Linked DNA regions of Homo sapiens: region 1 is linked to region 2. Evidence: fine-mapped expression QTL. Tissue or cell type: monocytes after Pam3CSK4. Region 2 holds a variant in brackets; the other region holds the start of a gene. All regions are shown on one strand. Distances are from middle to middle.

Region 1 (8,108 bases), 77 kb after region 2:
CTTGGTGCCCACCCATATCCTCTGTGCCCTTCACTGTGCTCAGCCTTGCTCCCAACTGTCAGTAGCTGCCTTTTGGTGCCTAAGAGCTTTTTTTTTTTTTTCTCCTGAACTGCAGAACGCCAGAAGTGCCAAGCAATTAACAACCCCAGAAGCAACCCTTAACCAATGATTAAATAAAGTGGATGATTACATACCCAAGCTCCTTCAACTCCCAGGGACATAATTCTGAGGTGGGTGTATGTTTATCCCTTTTTCAAGAACTTCCCCGAAGGATTAAGCTTCAGTCACCCACTGGTAAATTGCTTAACAGCTCAACCTCTATGGGTTTGGGTTGCTTTTTCTTGTATCACATGCTGTCTCCTTTATGGTGTACACTGCACTTTCCAAATTGACTACCTATACTTGAATCCTGTCTTAGATGTATTTCTGGAGGAACTCAAACTAAGGCAGATGGGGAACTATAGATTAAATGAAACTTAAGAGATGTCAACCAACTGCAAAGTGTGGAGCTGAGCAAAAAACAAAACAAAACAAAACAAACAAAAAAACTGTTCAAAAAGTTTATGAGACAATCAGGGATATTTAAATACTGACTGAATATTTTATAACATTTAGAAATTATTGGGGTTTTTAGGTGGCATAATACTGATAGGCTTATCTCTAAACCCATGATCAAATATTGGATATTTATAGATGAAATGTTAGGATGTCTGGGATTTGCTTTCAAATTAATATGGAGTGGAGTTGTGATTGGTGATGAGTTGACAATTATTAAAACTGGGCACTAGTATGTGAGACTTTATGATACCATTCTGTCCACTTTTGTAGATGTTGGAAATTTTCCCTAATTAGATACAAAAATGAAAAAAGCTGAAAGCTCTATGGGGATTGTTAATAACTATGTTCTTAGTGCTTAACAGTGTTCAGTACATAGTCAACAAAGAAGCACTCAAAACACTATTCATTGAACAACTGTTTTGTCTTATGTTGGGGATACCAAGGCAAATATTGTTGACATTGACATTTTTAGCTGACATACTGGAAATCTTACCAAGAGTTTTATACAGACTAGAGGAAAAAAATCATTTTATCAATTAGTACAATGTCGGGTTCAAAAAATGTTATACTAGGTCTACTTCTAACTAAAGTATTTTTCAGCTTGTGATTCATCACCGTCTGTGTCTTGAAGGTATATTTGAGTTAACATATATTTTATTAGAATGTGCTGTTTTTTGCCAAAATGCTGGAATTTCTGGGATACTTTGATGATTCAGTTGGACAGAATATGACACTGAATATTTGAAAGCAGGACTTGGTTAGAAAATCTAAGATTGTGAGTGCCGAATTTACCTAGTAGATATATGTTTCTGAAATTTACAAGGTAACTGCTTTTGTTGGGACCAAAACCACACAGCCAATAAAACTAAAACTGTACTGGGAAAATCATTTAAATAAAAGAATAGTATATTAAGTTGGAGGGTAGGGTATATTTGAAGTCTTAGAGGCATGTAAACAGGAACTTGCAAGAAATTCCAGCAGAAATTTTCCACTTTAAAAAATATAGATAAAGCTGGGCACAGTAGGGCATGTCTGTAGTCCCAGCTACTTGGGAGGCTATGGCAGGAGGATCACTTGAGGCCAGGAGTTCAAGGCTGTAATACGCCTAGATTGTACCTGTGAATAGCCACTGCACTCCAGCCTGGGCAACATAGCAAGATTCCATCTCTAAAAAAATATAAATTTGATATAGATGTATCTATATATCTGTCTCTAAAAAATTCTGTCACTTCCATGAGTTCACATTATTGCTGAGATTTATTTTCTTGCAAGATTTTCTAATAACATGATAGTCCTTGTTTTCAAGCTGTCAGGTAGTAAAACAGTAATTTAATTTGGCAATAACATATGACATTCTAAGAAGACGCATTAGAAGGTTTTTAAGAAGTGTACTGAAATATTTTTGGAATGTCCTTCAAACAGGCAAAGTTTAAACTGGAAAGAGCAAAAAGTTAAATATTATATATTTATAAAAAGTCAAACTATTTTTTCCTTACCTGGTTAAAAAGGTGTTACCAAGGTCGCAAAATAGCTTTGTATATTAAAAATTTTTTTTATTGGATTAATTCCTAGTTGTAGTTTAGCTACTTATTTTTGTTTTTCATTTATCTTTTTCACCTCTATGTAGCTTATGTTATTAAGTTATGTTATTAAGTTTTTAAATAAAACCTAGGAGGCTTCTTAATTCTTTATGAAAAATTCTGTGAGAATAACTAGCTAAATTTTAAAACTACAACCAAATAAGATTGACATAATAATATGCATATACATTGCTCTTCTCACATTAACAATAATAGATTTGTATCTTCTAAGATATCTCTGAGAATAAAATTTCCAGCCATATCATCAGCTAAATTAACTCAAATTTACTATCTGGATTTGGCTGTTTCACTTGTAGGTTAAAAGTTAAAAGGTTTGCTATTTCTTGGAATCAAAGGTTATTTAATGAAAGAAGATTAATTTCAATAAATGATGCATTTAAAGTTTTTTCCAACAAAGAGTGTAAGAGATTTATCACAGGTTCTAAATAACAAATTTAATTTCCCTAACATGTTAAGGAGAATTTTGGTTCCCGCAGAGGACTGAGTGGACTAATCATTTATAATAAGACTGACTTTAAACTTCCTTTTAACTTGACAGTAGTTAATTCTAACTTTATTAAATTAGAATCCCCATTAATTCACCCATTTTTCTTTCACCAATTTTGTTTTACAATTAAGGTTTATCTGCAGAGTTCTGTTTTGACCATTATGCTGAAAGTGCTGAGTTCTGCTGTTTGCCTTCCTTCAGCCTTTCTGGCTGAATGGCTTCCTGAATCTTCTCAGAGGTTTCCCTCTGAGCCCATGATGGGGTTCTAAAAGCACATTCTGTTCATGTACTGGGATAGTGGGATGTGAGGGCAGAGAAGTTCTTCCTGAGCATGAGTCCTTCATCCTCTACCCACTGTTTTATAAACCTGTCTCAAATTCCATGCACTTTTGGACCCAGTTACTTGAACTCTCAGGAGCAGGTACTTTGTCACCTCCAGAGGGAAGGCCAGCATCCTCCTAGCGGGTACTGCTGTGTGCTTGCCCCTGAGCCAGGAGCTTTGCATTTGCTCTCTCATTTGATCCCCTCAACAACCCTAGTAGTGAGGAAATATCTATTTCATACATGAGGAAATTGAGGCCCAGAGAAGGCACTGGCTGCTTAGCTGTGTGCTGTCACCCTGTTGAAACCAACGCCTCCTGCCTACACTGCCACTGCCTGTATAAACTGGTGCCACCCACGGTTATATGGCAGAAAGCAGTGCTTCGAGAAAATGGACCAGCAACCGCCATGTGTTGAACAGGCTATGGGCAGGAGGAAATAAAGCAGTTATAGCACCTGGGGGTGGAAGTCAAGGCAGTAACCAAAATAAAGTGGGAGCACGGAAAAAAGCTGGGGAAATAAAAAGGTTCAAATTTCACATTTCCTCATGAAGTCCAGATCAAGTTGGAGCTTGTTTAATAGCAGAAATTAGGCAGCCAGACCTGTCTGTAGGGCAAAGAAATTTTTGTTGAAAAGCCCAGCAAGTATTTACTCCGCTGTAACAGAGTCTTTTTCTAACTCCAGGATCTTTTCTTTGTGTGCTCTGTAGAATGAAGTGTGCTTGTTTTGGTGGGGATACATTTACACAGTTCTCCATGTTTTGTTTCATCTTTCCTCTCCGTGTTGTTGCTCTCTTTTTCCTTTGCTCTATCCAAAGATATCAGCCAAAGAAGCCAAGAAAAATGTTATCTTTACTTTAGAATTAGGGATTTCAGATATGGGTAGATGGCTCTGTTAGGCAGAAGTGTCAGAGCTGGTTATAGGAAAACCAGGCGGCACATACATGATCCCAGACACCGAAGTAACCTCTGTCTCACTCCTCCACTTCCAGCAAGGTATTGTGCTCTGAGGGGCTGATGAGAGAAGGTAGATTATGGGTCTGCCAAGGCTTTTTACTGGTCTCTGTTTATCTTTTTCTGAGTGCCAATTCAGCATGATCTAGACCAGGATCATTTGTTTGCAGGGATGGAAAACAAACTGAAACTGGCTCAAGTGAATGCTCACTGGAAGGCTTACTGGAAAACTTACTGGAAGGATGTGAGGACATGTTCGGGAATCTATTTGCAGAAAACATATTCAGGTATACTGGGAGCTCTCCCTCTCTCACATTGTCTCCCTCACTGAAACCAGGATTGCTGTCTATTTCCTTGGGGCTGTTGCTGTCATGCTGTCTTACTAACTGTAGTGTTGTGTTAGCTACACGACTGCTCAAGTTTATTTTTTTGAAAAATTGTGTTCCATTTAGCCAGGATGATGCAAGTTGTTTCAAGAAAGGCTATAAAATGCTTGCAATAAAAGTCATGTTCATTCACATTCATTAGGAAAAAATGAAATAAATCTATGCTGCATAACTTTTTTCATGCCAAGTGCGGGAGTGGAGGTTGTCAAATCAAGACTGGATCATCAAGTACATAATGATAGGGTGCCAAAATTCCAAGGAGGTTGGGAGTCACTGTTGTTGAGGGTGGTCAAAGAATTTGTTTCCCCACAAGGCATGTGGCTTTGGGCCAGCACACCTCATAATTCGTTCTCTTCTATTTCCCACATCCGTCTTATAATGTCTCAATTTAACCAGGGGAATATGGAGCGTGAACTCTTTCTATTTACCCTTTTAACATCCAGGTAGATATTTCTGAGATACATGGCAATGTATCAGGGTTGAGTTTGCTGCTCTGGTTCTTATCCTTTTTTTTTGAGACAGGTTCTTGCTCTGTTGCCCAGGCTGGAATGCAGTGGTGCAATCTCAGCTCACTGCAGACTCTGCCTCTGCCTCTTAAGTTTAAGTGATCCTCGTGCCTCAGCCTCCTGAGTAGCTGAGATTACCGGCACCTGCCATTGTGCCCAGCTAATTTTTGTATTTTTAATAATGGTGAGGTTTCACCATGTTGCCCAGGCTGGTCTCGAACTCCTGGCCTCAAGTGATCCACTTGCTTTGGCCTCCCAAAGTGCCGGGATTACAGGTATGAGCCACCATGCCTAGCCTCTGGTTCTTATCCTTTTGAAAGTCTTAAAGTCTCCTCTTCATTCATGTATCAAATATTTGATGAAATATTTGACCAGATGTCAGAGTCTAGAACATCAGACCGAGATAGTAAACCAGTGGGTCGTAAATAGCTACATGAAGGGCATAGAATCTAAACAGATCCAGAGTGAGAGATTAAGGTCAAGGAACTGGAAGGCATATCTGGATTTATTTATTTTTTTTAAAAAAATACAGTATTTGTTTGGATGGAGAATGGAAATAGAACTTGCAGTTTTGGTTCTCTGCAATGCAGGTTGGCCACTGCTATTGCTGTAACTCTGTCCTATTGTCCTACCCATACTACTGTTGTAACTTCCATAAGGTGGGACCTGATGAATCACGCACACTTCCAGAGTGTTTGGTCAGGGTGACCCTGGGTGCAGCAAGGATGGCCAATGCTGTTGGCATCAAAAGGCCAAGAGATGACTTTGGTCAGATTAGATAAAGACCATTTAGGGCCATGGAGATATGGAAGCAATTTTCTTCTTTCCTAGAAGATGATGCAATAGATGACAATAAGCATTTGGGTGAATCTCTCCAGCCAGGTTTGAAGGCAGTTTGTGTCACGTAGTGGGTGGGTGGATGGGGAAAGTTAGTTCTAATTACTATTCCAGGGCCCTACATCCAGAACCTTTCCATTTTAAGACAAGAGGGGGACTAACATTCCCAGCTCATTCGCAAATGACTCAAGAGAATGGGACAGAGGAAAGGGAGATACCATTTTTAATTCCCCCTGGAGGAGTCCTAATGTCCCATTAGTGTTTCAACTGTTTGGTCTAATTCAGGTATGAAGTACAGTGGTTTGTTTGTTTGTTTGTTTGTTTTGTTTTTTGTTTTTCATAAAATTGGTTGATTGATTAATAAATTGCTTGCTGGGCATTGGGGAACTATACATGAAAATTATATGACTTTAACCCTGAAGGAGCTCAGAATCTAATGCGGAAGATGGATATTTATGATATATAACAAGGGCAACAATAAATCTAGTACAAGATATGAGGAATCTTCCAGGCTTTGTATTGGACAAAATGTCTCTGGGATGTCCTTTACCTGGAGGCATATATGGGCCCAATGCCAGCTTCAGCTATTCTAAAAGAGACCTGAGTCTAAAGATCACACATTATCTCATATCAGGAGCCATGCTCACTGACTGAAATTTCCCAGTGGCCACCAAGCTATCATTATGGTCCCTATAGTCCCACTAATTATTATCCATCCCACTTTGCTACTTCTGGATCGGACACTTGACAGATAATGTCAGGGACAGTATAGCGTGTGTTTTGCCCAAATGATCTTTAAGACAGCCTCGTTCCCAGTCTGGCGGTTGTGTGGGAATCAGCATCTTCACTTCCTGATTTCTATTACACTCCTTCCTACAGCCCTGTCCACCACAGCCAGCTGGCTGAAGAGCTCAAAAGGCAAGAAATCAGCAAGAGAGAGAGATGAAGCATGAGAAATGAGCAAAAAACACCCAGCACATCATAATCTTGGACAGTTTAGCAGTACATGAAAATAGATGGTCCTCGCCCCAAGGGACTGCAGTAACCCTGAATAAACAGGATGTCTCTCACTTTTAGCAGTTCTTTCTGTGCTAGTATTGGGGAAATATATTTTTGGCTGCATGCAAAATGGTAAAAGACATCTATTAAGAAAATGAAAACAATGCTTCTGTTTTAGACGAAGCTTTTGAAGGTTTAAGGATCACCTATTTATTGACAAAATTGTTTCCGTGGCTTAAAAATAAAATACAAACAAATACTACAGGTATTCTTGCCTTCTCATTCTACTTAAAATCACATTTCCAAAGACTTTCTTCTCTACTTAAAAACAGGAATTAAGAAATACTCAAAAGAGATCCTAGACAAAACTAACATTTCAGCAACCAAAGATAAATCATGCTTTTAGAGGAAGATGCTAGGTTCTAGAATCTCTCTGAACACCGTGTAGCACTAAGAAACTACAATCACTGGCTGAGACCTTGATCAAATAATGGCTAACATATAAGATGCTTATTCTAGTCAGGCACACTTCTAAGAGCTGTATATCTGCTAATTCATTTATTCTCCTAGGATATAAAGGATCAGCAGATCCTTCAGGCTCTGGTATGTTCTGAGATGAGTTAACCCAGAAATTGTCATCAAAAGACAGATTCAGCAAAACGGAAACAGCCACCATTTTATGTAGATGTCCCTGTGGTTTAGTGCTACAGACCGGACATTTGTGCCCTTAGGGGAAAAATGATGAGGTCAGAGCAGACTGGGATAGATCAGGTCTGGTGCTTTTATTGTAGATCCTGGAACCAAAGATGATCTTATGGAAAGCCAGGTAGACAGTTCAGCTGAGGTATTCATCCATAGAGACTGGCCAGAAAGGCACAGTTTGGGTTGAAAGTGTGGGCACATGAGACCAAAGCAAGAGGGCTTGAAAATGGGGTAGACGCAGGAGACTGGAGAGAAGCCTCAGCCCCTGGGACAAAGTGGCAGGTTCTTTATCCAGGGTGCTGGTGTCTGGAGCGCTTTGGGAGGACCCTGTGAAGGGCATGGTGTCTCCAGCAATGTTGGGTGTACCCTCCCATAGTTCAGTGTTCCAGAAAAAGGATGGGAAAATTACAAGAATAATAGCAGGCAGAAGTTGTGCCAAATTTCATCCTAACACAAAATGTGGTTATAAACAAGGGTAAGGAGAGGGTTTTCATCTCCTGCTTTAATCCTGGAAAGCTCTGCTAGACTGTGATTCAGTCTCTCTTTTTCTAGCAGTTCTGGGGTTGTGATTCTTAGTCTAGGGATTTTCAGTTGTTTAAACCCTACTTGGCTTTTTCTAATGAGCACTAATGCCAAGTTTTTATCACTAAGCTCATAGATTTGCCAAAGAAATGGTGATACCAAGAAATTCATTGCAAGTTACTACCTGTAATCCATGTGTAGGGTGTTTGGTGTGTTGTGGTGTTCTTTAGTTTCTA
Region 2 (8,108 bases):
CATAGGTCCACTACTGCTCGATTTCATTCTGTAGACTGCACCCAGGGCCAGGTTTCGACATCTGGAAGTGAGTTTTCAGCAGACAGCTCCATCAGGGCTGTAACGATAGCTGAAGGGGAAAGAAGGAGCTCATATCTTGCAGAATCAGCTCTTCCCTAGACCATGACCAAAGGCCGATTCCCAGTAGTGTCTTCCGCGGAAAAACGCGAGACCCGCTCTCCAGGAACCCATCTCTGCCCAGCGGCGCCCTGGCACCGCAACCTCGCCTCGCAGCCCCGCGGACCAACACAGGCCCCGCCCCCAGAGCCGTCCGGAAAACCTGGACCGTGGAGATCCGCATGGGGGGACGCCGTGCAGTCGTGAGGCCAAGCTGAGCATGCTCGGAGAGCCGGCCTGTCGCGGGAGGAAGCGGTGTGGGCCGCGGGCGGCGCACGCCGCGCAGTTGTTGTGATACAGCCCCCGCCACGTGACTGCGCGGGCCCGCCTCCCCCGCGCGCGGCACCGCCTCCCCGTGACTCAGCGCTTTGTGCGGGCTCCGAGCCGGAGGTCAATCTGGGGGAGGCTTCTTAGGGCAAAGTCTCAGTCCATCACTCCTGACCTCTGGGCTGCTGCTGCTGCTAGGATTGCCGCAGTCGTTTCAGACACGATGGGTTTCGGGCCTCCAAGGACCAAAAAATACATCATTTTCTCTGTGGTCACGCCATTCCCAGTTTCCCTTGAGTCAGCGGCTTCGCGAGATCAAATAAGGAAAACAGAGAGAGTGCCCAGGGGACTCTGAGGAAGGCACTTCTAGGTTATCTGCCCCTGCCTTTACCGCTCTCTTTGGCTTGAGTATCCCTTGACCTTGGTGGTCTGTCGCTTGGGTCCCAGTATATCACATTCTATGCCAGGCACTTTGAGCTGGTATCCGTAAAACAGTACTAATCTTTGCCACATTTTATAAGTGAGGCAACTGAGATCCAGTAATACTAAGTAACAGGTAGTGGCTAAGCTGGGGTTTGAACTCCAGTGATATTTCAAAGCTGTCTACTACACCACTTAGCCTGGGTGAAGCTGGTGGCTGCCTTCAGTGTGATTCTTCCTGGGACTTGATGCCAACCTTCATTACATCCTTTCTTCTCCCTTGACACACCCTTTCCCCAAAACCCGCGGATCTGCCTGTGAAGTCCTTAAGCTTTTTGTCTGTTAAATTTCTTTCTTTTTTTTTTTTTTTTGAGATGGAGTCTCGCTCTGTCGCCCAGGCTGGAGTGCAGTGGCGGGATCTCGGCTCACTGCAAGCTCCGCCTCCCGGGTTCACGCCATTCTCCTGCCTCAGCCTCCCAAGTAGCTGGGACTACAGGCGCCCGCCACTATGCCCGGCTAATTTTTTGTATTTTTAGTAGAGACGGGGTTTTACCGTTTTAGCCGGGATGGTCTCGATCTCCTGACCTCGTGATCCGCCCGCCTCGGCCTCCCAATGTTAAATTTCTTAATTGGTGAAAACAAATAGTTAGTTATTTCTTAACTTCAGTGTACATGTTAAACAACAAAAGATACAGAAGGAATTTTCTCCCTACAATTGAATTGTACTTGGAATTTGACTTGATCTTATTCAAGAAGATCCCTGGGGGCTTTATGATGGAAGAGCAGTAGCCAAAAGACTGGGGCTTTGGCCCCATCTCAGAGGGCTACCTGCTGGGTCAATCTAAGCAAAGTTGTGATAATCATTGGAGAGTCCTTTCCTCTCATCTGTACAAATGAGAGTCTGGAGGAGATAAAGTTTCCCTTCCAGCCTAAACATTTTCTGATGTTATTACTAAAATTAGTTGAAAGAGTTCAAATCTTTTTGTATCGTGTACTATTTGTAATACATGCTGCTGAGGTGTGCTATTGTCATTGTCAAAAAAGCAAGGAAACTCTTTTGACCTTTTCCAAGCCAATTTTTAGTTTACATGGATTTTTGAAAAATATAAATGTGCTTGTTTTCATGTAGAGTTACAAAAGGTCTGTGAAGTTCAAGTGAAGAACTTTTTTAACATGGAGAAGTTTGAGTGTGCTAAAGAAGATGGGTAGGCATCAAAAGGGGGCAAGATTGAAGATGTGGGAACAAGAAAGGATATTTTCAGAAGCAAAATGTCTCAGGAGACCTGACTTGTTGGGATCCAGAACACATGGGAAGTGGTGAGCTTTTTTTCCTAGAAAAATCTCATTGTCTTCTTATAGAAGATAAAGACGCCATGATAATGTGTTGGGACAGGGCGAGTGATATCTGAGTCCTGTAGACTCACTCTTCTCACTGGAGAATAATTAAAGATAACTTTTTATTATGGACATTTCCAATAAAGCACAAAAGTTGAGAGAACATAGTATAATGGCTCTTCATGTACTTTTTTCTTTTTTTTTTTGAGACGGGAGTCTTGCTCTGTCACCCAGGCTGGAGTGCAGTGGCATGATCTTGGCTCACTGCAACCTCCACCTCCTGGGTTCAAGCAATTCTCCTGCCTCAGCCTCCCGAGTAGCTGGGACTACAGGCGCCTGCCACCACGCCGGGCTAATTTTTGTATTTTCAGTAGAGACGGGGTTTCACCGTTAGCCAGGGTGGTCTTGAACTCCTGACGTCAGGTAATCTGCCAGCCTTGGCCTCCCAAAGTGCTGGGATTACATGTGTGAGCCACTGTGCCTGGCCCTAGTTTTTGTATTTTTGGTAGAGATGGGGTTTTGCCATATTGGCCAGGTTGATCTCAAACTCCTGACCTCAGGTGATCCGCCTGCCTTGGCCTCCCAAAGTGCTGGGATTACAGGCATGAGCCATGGTGCCCACCTCTTCATGTACTTATTATTCATCTTTGTATGTTACAGTTACTTACCTCCTCCCATTAGTTTAAAGGAAATCTCACTCAAGTCTGATCTCAGGACCTGAGCTCTAAGTGAAGGTTGAAGAAAGAAAGAGGAATGTAGAAGATGAGGTTTGAGCAGCTGATATGGGAGGTGATCTAGAAAGATGGAAAATAATGAGCAATACCCTAATATCCGTAAACCAAAAATAAAATTCTAAGCCCTCCAACTACCTGAATGGACCACTCCTCTAGGCCAAGAACATTCTAAAGTAAACCTGAGGCCAGGCGCAGTGACTCACACCTGTAATCCCACCACTTTGGGAGGCCAAGGCAGGCAGATCACCTGGGGTCAGGAGTTCAAGACCAGCCTGGCCAACACAGCGAAACCCCGTCTCTACTTAAAATACAAAAATTAGCCAGGTGTGGTGGCATGCACCAGTAATCCCAGCTACTTGGGAGGCTGAGGTGGGAGAATCACTTGAACAGGGAGGCGGAGGTTGCAATGAACCAAAATCACGCCACTGCATTCCAGACTGGGTGACAGAGTGAGACTCCGTCTCAAAAAAAATAAAAAATAAATTAAAAAAAAGTAAACCTGAAATATGAAACACTACTTCAGGCCATGATGGAATAGGTGATCAGACATGCCTAATTATAACATCCTCCCTTTGGATTTCAGGCACAGCTGACCAGCATTAACATTGAAACAGACCTGAAGACTGACTAAACAGGTTCTTTGGAACAATAAAATACCAACATGATGGATAATAGGCCCTGAAGAAATCAAGTATTTTATCTTAAAATACAGTTCTTTGACATATTTTGAAATGGCCCTGCAAAGCTGTTTCTTGTGGGGAAAATCTACATCCTGTAGAGAATCCCCTTCCCTTTCCAGGTCTTTTTCCTGATCCAGAAGAGAATTAACGGAGTCTGGCACCTTTTTAAGTCTCCCAACAAACATTTACAGTCTATTCTCTTTGAAGCCTGCTACCTGGAGGCTTCATCTGTATAATAAGAACCTTGGTCTCCACAACTCCTTAGTTAACCCAGACACTCCCTTCTATCGATTCTAGGTCCTTAGGTAAACTCAACCAATTGCCATTCAGAAAACCTTTGAATCCACCTATTCAAATATTAGCGGGGACCTGGAACTGACCCTCTGATACGGTTTGGCTGCGTCCCCACCCAAATCTCAACTTGAATTGTATCTCCCAGAATTCCCACCTGTTTTGAGAGGGACCCACGAGGAGGTAGTTGAATCATGGGGGCTGGTCTTTCCTGTGCTATTCTCACGATAGTGAATAAGTCTCACAAGATCTGATGGGTTTATCAG[A/G]GGTTTCCCCTTTTGCTTCTTCCTCATTTTCTCTTGCTACCACGCTGTAAGAAGTGCCTTTCACCTCCCACCGTGATTCTAAGGCCCTCCCAGCCATGTGGAACTGTAAGTCCAGTTAAACCTCTTTTTTTTTTCCAGTCTCAGTTATGTTTTTATCAGCAGTGTGAAGATGGACTAATACAGTAAATTGGTACCAGTAGAGTGGTGTGTTGCTGAAAAGATACCTGAAAAGGTAGAATCAACATTGGAACTGGGTAACAGGCAGAGGTTGGAACAGTTTGGAGGGCTCAGAAGAAGACAGGAAAATGTGGGAAAGTTTGGAGCTTCCTAGAGACTTGTTGAATGGCTTTGCCCAACATGCTGACATGTTGACAATAATGACAGCTGACAATAATGTCCATGCTGAGGTGGTCTCAGATGGAGATGAGAAACTTGTTGGGAACTGGAGTAAAAGTGACTCTTGTTACGTTTTAGCAAAGAGACTGGTGGCATCGTGCCCCTGCCCTAGAGATTTGTGGAACTTTGAACTTGAGAAAGATGATTTAGGATACCTGGTGGAAGAAATTTCTAAGCAGCAAAGCATTCAATAAGTGACTTGGGTACTGTTAAAGTTTTATAAGGGAAGCAGATCATAAAAGTTTGGAAAATTTGCAGGTTGACTATGTGATAGAAAAGAAAAAACCATCTTCTGGGGAGAAATTCAAGCTGGTGTCAGAAATTTGCATAAGTAGCAAGGAGCCTAATGTTAATCCCCGAGACCATGGGGAAAATGTCTCCAGGCCATGTCAGAGACCTTCATGGCAGCCCCTTCCACCATAGGCCTGGAGGCCCAGGAGAAAAAAGTGGTTTTGTGGGCCAGGCCCAGGGTCTCCGTGCTGTGTGCAGCCCAGGGACTTGGTGCCCTGTGTCCCAGTCACTCCAGCCATGATTGAAAGGGGCCAACATACAGCTCAGGCTGTGGCTTCAGAGGGTGGAAGCCCCAAGCCTTGGCAGCTTCCATGTGGTGTTGAGCCTATAGGTGCACAGAAATCAAGAATTGAGGTTTGGTAACCTCCACCTAGATTTCAGATGTATGAAAACGCCTGGATGCCCAGGCAAAAGTTTGCTGCACAGGCAGGGGCTTCATGGAATACCTCTGCTAGGGCAGAGCAGAAGGGAAATGTGGAGTTTAGAGCCCCCACACAGAGTCCCTAATGGAGCACTGCCTAGTGGAGCTGTGAGAAGAGGGCCACCGTCCTCCAGATCCCAGGATGGTAGATCCACTGACAGCTTGCACCATGCACCTGGAAAAGCCGCAGACACTCAATGCCAGCCTGTGAAAACAGCTGGGAGGGAGGCTGTACCCTGCAAAGCCACCGGGGCAGAGCTGCCCAAGACCATGGGAACCCACCTCTTCCATCAGCATGACCTGAATGTGAGACCTGGAGTCAAAGGATATCATTTTGGAACTTTAAAATTTGACTGCTCCACTGGATTTCGGACTTGCATGGGCCCTGTAACCCCTTTGTTTTGGCTAATTTCTCCCATTTGGAATGGCTGTATTTACCCAATACCTGTACCCCCATTTTATCTAGGAAGTAACTAGCTTGCTTTCGGTTTTACAGGCTCATAAGCAGAAGGGACTTGCCTCGTCTCAGATGAGACTTTGGACTGTGGACTTTTGGGTTAATTCTGAAATGAGTTAAGACTTTGGGGGACTGTTGGGAAGGCATGATTAGTTTTGAAATGTGAGGACATGAGATTTGGAGGGGCTAGGGGTGGAATGACATGTTTTGGCTGTGTCCCCACCCAAATCTCAACTTGAATTGTATCTTCCAAAATTCACACCTGTTTTGGGAGGGACCCAGGGGGAAGTAATTGAATCATGCTGGCTGGTCTTTCCCATGCTATTCTCGTGATGGTGAATAAGTCTCATGAGATGTGATGGGTTTATCAGGGGTTTCTGCTTTTGCTTCCTCCTCGTTTTCTTTGGCTGCCACCATGTAAGAAGTGCCTTTCACCTCCCACCATGATTCTGAGGCCTCCCTAGCCATGTGAAACTGTAAGTTCAATTAAATCTCTTTTTCTTCCCAGTCTCAGGTATATGTTTATCAGCAGCGTGAAAATGGACTAATACAGCCCCCTCACCCCGAGTTGTCTCATGTTTCCCAAGTTGTCTCACATTTTCAGGGCATGTTTCTGGACTGAACCACCATCTTTCATGTACTGATGTCTTACATCCACCTAAAATGTATGATACCAAACTATATGTAGCCCGACCACCTTGGGCACATGTTCTCAGGATCACCTGGGGTTGTGTCACAGCCCATGACCACTCATATTTGGCTCAAAATAAATGTCTTCAACTATTTTATAGAGTTTGACTCTTTTTGTTGACATATCTTACTGGAAACCAATTTCTGTCATTCTAAATTTGGAGATGGTAGATCTTATCCAGTTTTTTCACTCCAAATTATCCAGCTATTGTTCCAAATTATGGGGCTTTGTATTTAAAAACAAAACCCAAAGCCAGAAAAACATGCTTGTCGCATATAGTATAAATGATTTGACAATGGCTGTGCATGGGTGATTAATATTGCTAAAATAGGCCAAGTGTCAAAATGTGAGTAAGATTGCTAAGGCATGTATTTACCTTTTTAAAGATATCTGATCTTAGTCTCTGCCTTTTTTCTTCCATTTCATTCACCTTAGTTCACATAAATATATGTAAAGTTCATTCTAGATTAGATAACACCAAATAATTGAACTTTGGCGCACTATAACCTATCATTCATGGATGATGAGATGTGAAAAAGTGTTAGCCATAATTACATCTATGTAGAAAGGCAATTGTACTGAATAATTGAGCAATTTTGCTTCGATAAGACCAGTTCCTAAAAGCAAAAAAAAAAAAAAAAATATATTGTACTTCCCGAAAGTATTTTTTCTCATACAATACCTCCTGCCACTTATTTTAGTACTTAAACTTTAATGTAGTAAGTACCTTAAGGAAAAAATTCAACTCACCTAAAAACTTATCTTACAATACACAGGACATCCCACAACAAGAATTGTCCTACTCTAAATGTCAGTAGTATCAAGTTTGAGACACTCCTCTATATGTTGTGAAAGGATAATAAATCTCGAGACCTCCAAAGCACTAAGCCAAGGGAAAAATCAAGCTGGAAACGATGTCAGGCAAACCTGCCTGCATCTCATTTTATTCCTAAATAAAATAGCTACAAAGATAAAAGGCTACATACCTCCCTCACAATTTGCCTACAAGGAATTTCCTTGTGGACAAGGGATAGACAGAAATCAAAGTCATCCTTCTGAGGCTCATCTGAGACAAATGCATATCTGATTGCTTCCTCTGCCATATTGTTTATATAAAAATGCAGATTCACTGAGCCAGACTAAATTGTGTATTCGGTGAAAGGCTGGTCAAAGACTCAAAGGAATCCCCCTCTGCTCCCCCCAACCCTGTGTGCCTTACTGGACTGAACCAAGGTACATCTTACACATAATGATTGATATCTCCTGTCTCCCTAAAACAAATAAAAGCAAGCTGTACCCCAACTACCCTGGGCACAAGTCATCAGGACCTCCTGAGACTGTGTCACAGGTATGTCCTTAACCTTGGCAAAATAAACTTTCTAAATTGACTGTGACCCGTCTCAGATATTTGGGGTTCACAATGTATTACGATGAACTCTATTACACGAATGCTTGTCTTTAAATATTTGCAAGGGTTTCCAAGATGGTCAAAAAGAATAGTTGAGAAGAACTGAACATTTACAATGGTTAGTGTCATTTTATTTGCAATTATCACAGGCACAAATATGTATATATAGTCACCTAGTGTACTCCTCTCTAATGTGCTGATGGAGCCTGTGATGGGAGGGGTTAGGGCTCTTTCTTAATCCTGTTTCTGTTTCTCTTGTGGCCAGTTACTTGTGAAAGGAAAATGAATCTTGGGG

Alleles and levels. Positions count from the first base shown, and alleles are read on the strand shown. Sizes are in standard deviations (SD) of each study's normalised expression.
With allele G in place of A in region 2, the expression in monocytes after Pam3CSK4 of the gene that starts at base 3,896 in region 1 is higher (moderate effect, 0.62 SD a copy in Quach 2016).

What was found. PIP is the estimated chance that this variant, and not a neighbour inherited with it, causes the effect.
Region 1: it holds the start of LINC01564, and the variant in region 2 is fine-mapped to the expression of LINC01564 in monocytes after Pam3CSK4 (Quach 2016, PIP 0.95). The same link has a PIP of 0.9 or more in monocytes after R848.

Annotation. Positions count from the first base shown.
Region 1 is chr6:53,624,485-53,632,592 of GRCh38, forward strand. LINC01564 (long intergenic non-protein coding RNA 1564) reads left to right here and starts at 3,896. Exons shown (of 3, transcript NR_125841.1): 1 at 3,896-3,962; 2 at 4,091-4,207; 3 at 6,529-6,910.
Region 2 is chr6:53,547,737-53,555,844 of GRCh38, forward strand. No RefSeq gene overlaps it. Among named protein-coding and RNA genes, the nearest start is that of GCLC, 6.7 kb to the left of the region's middle. RefSeq lists a silencer at 406-635. The variant A/G (reference allele first, on the strand shown) is at 4,150.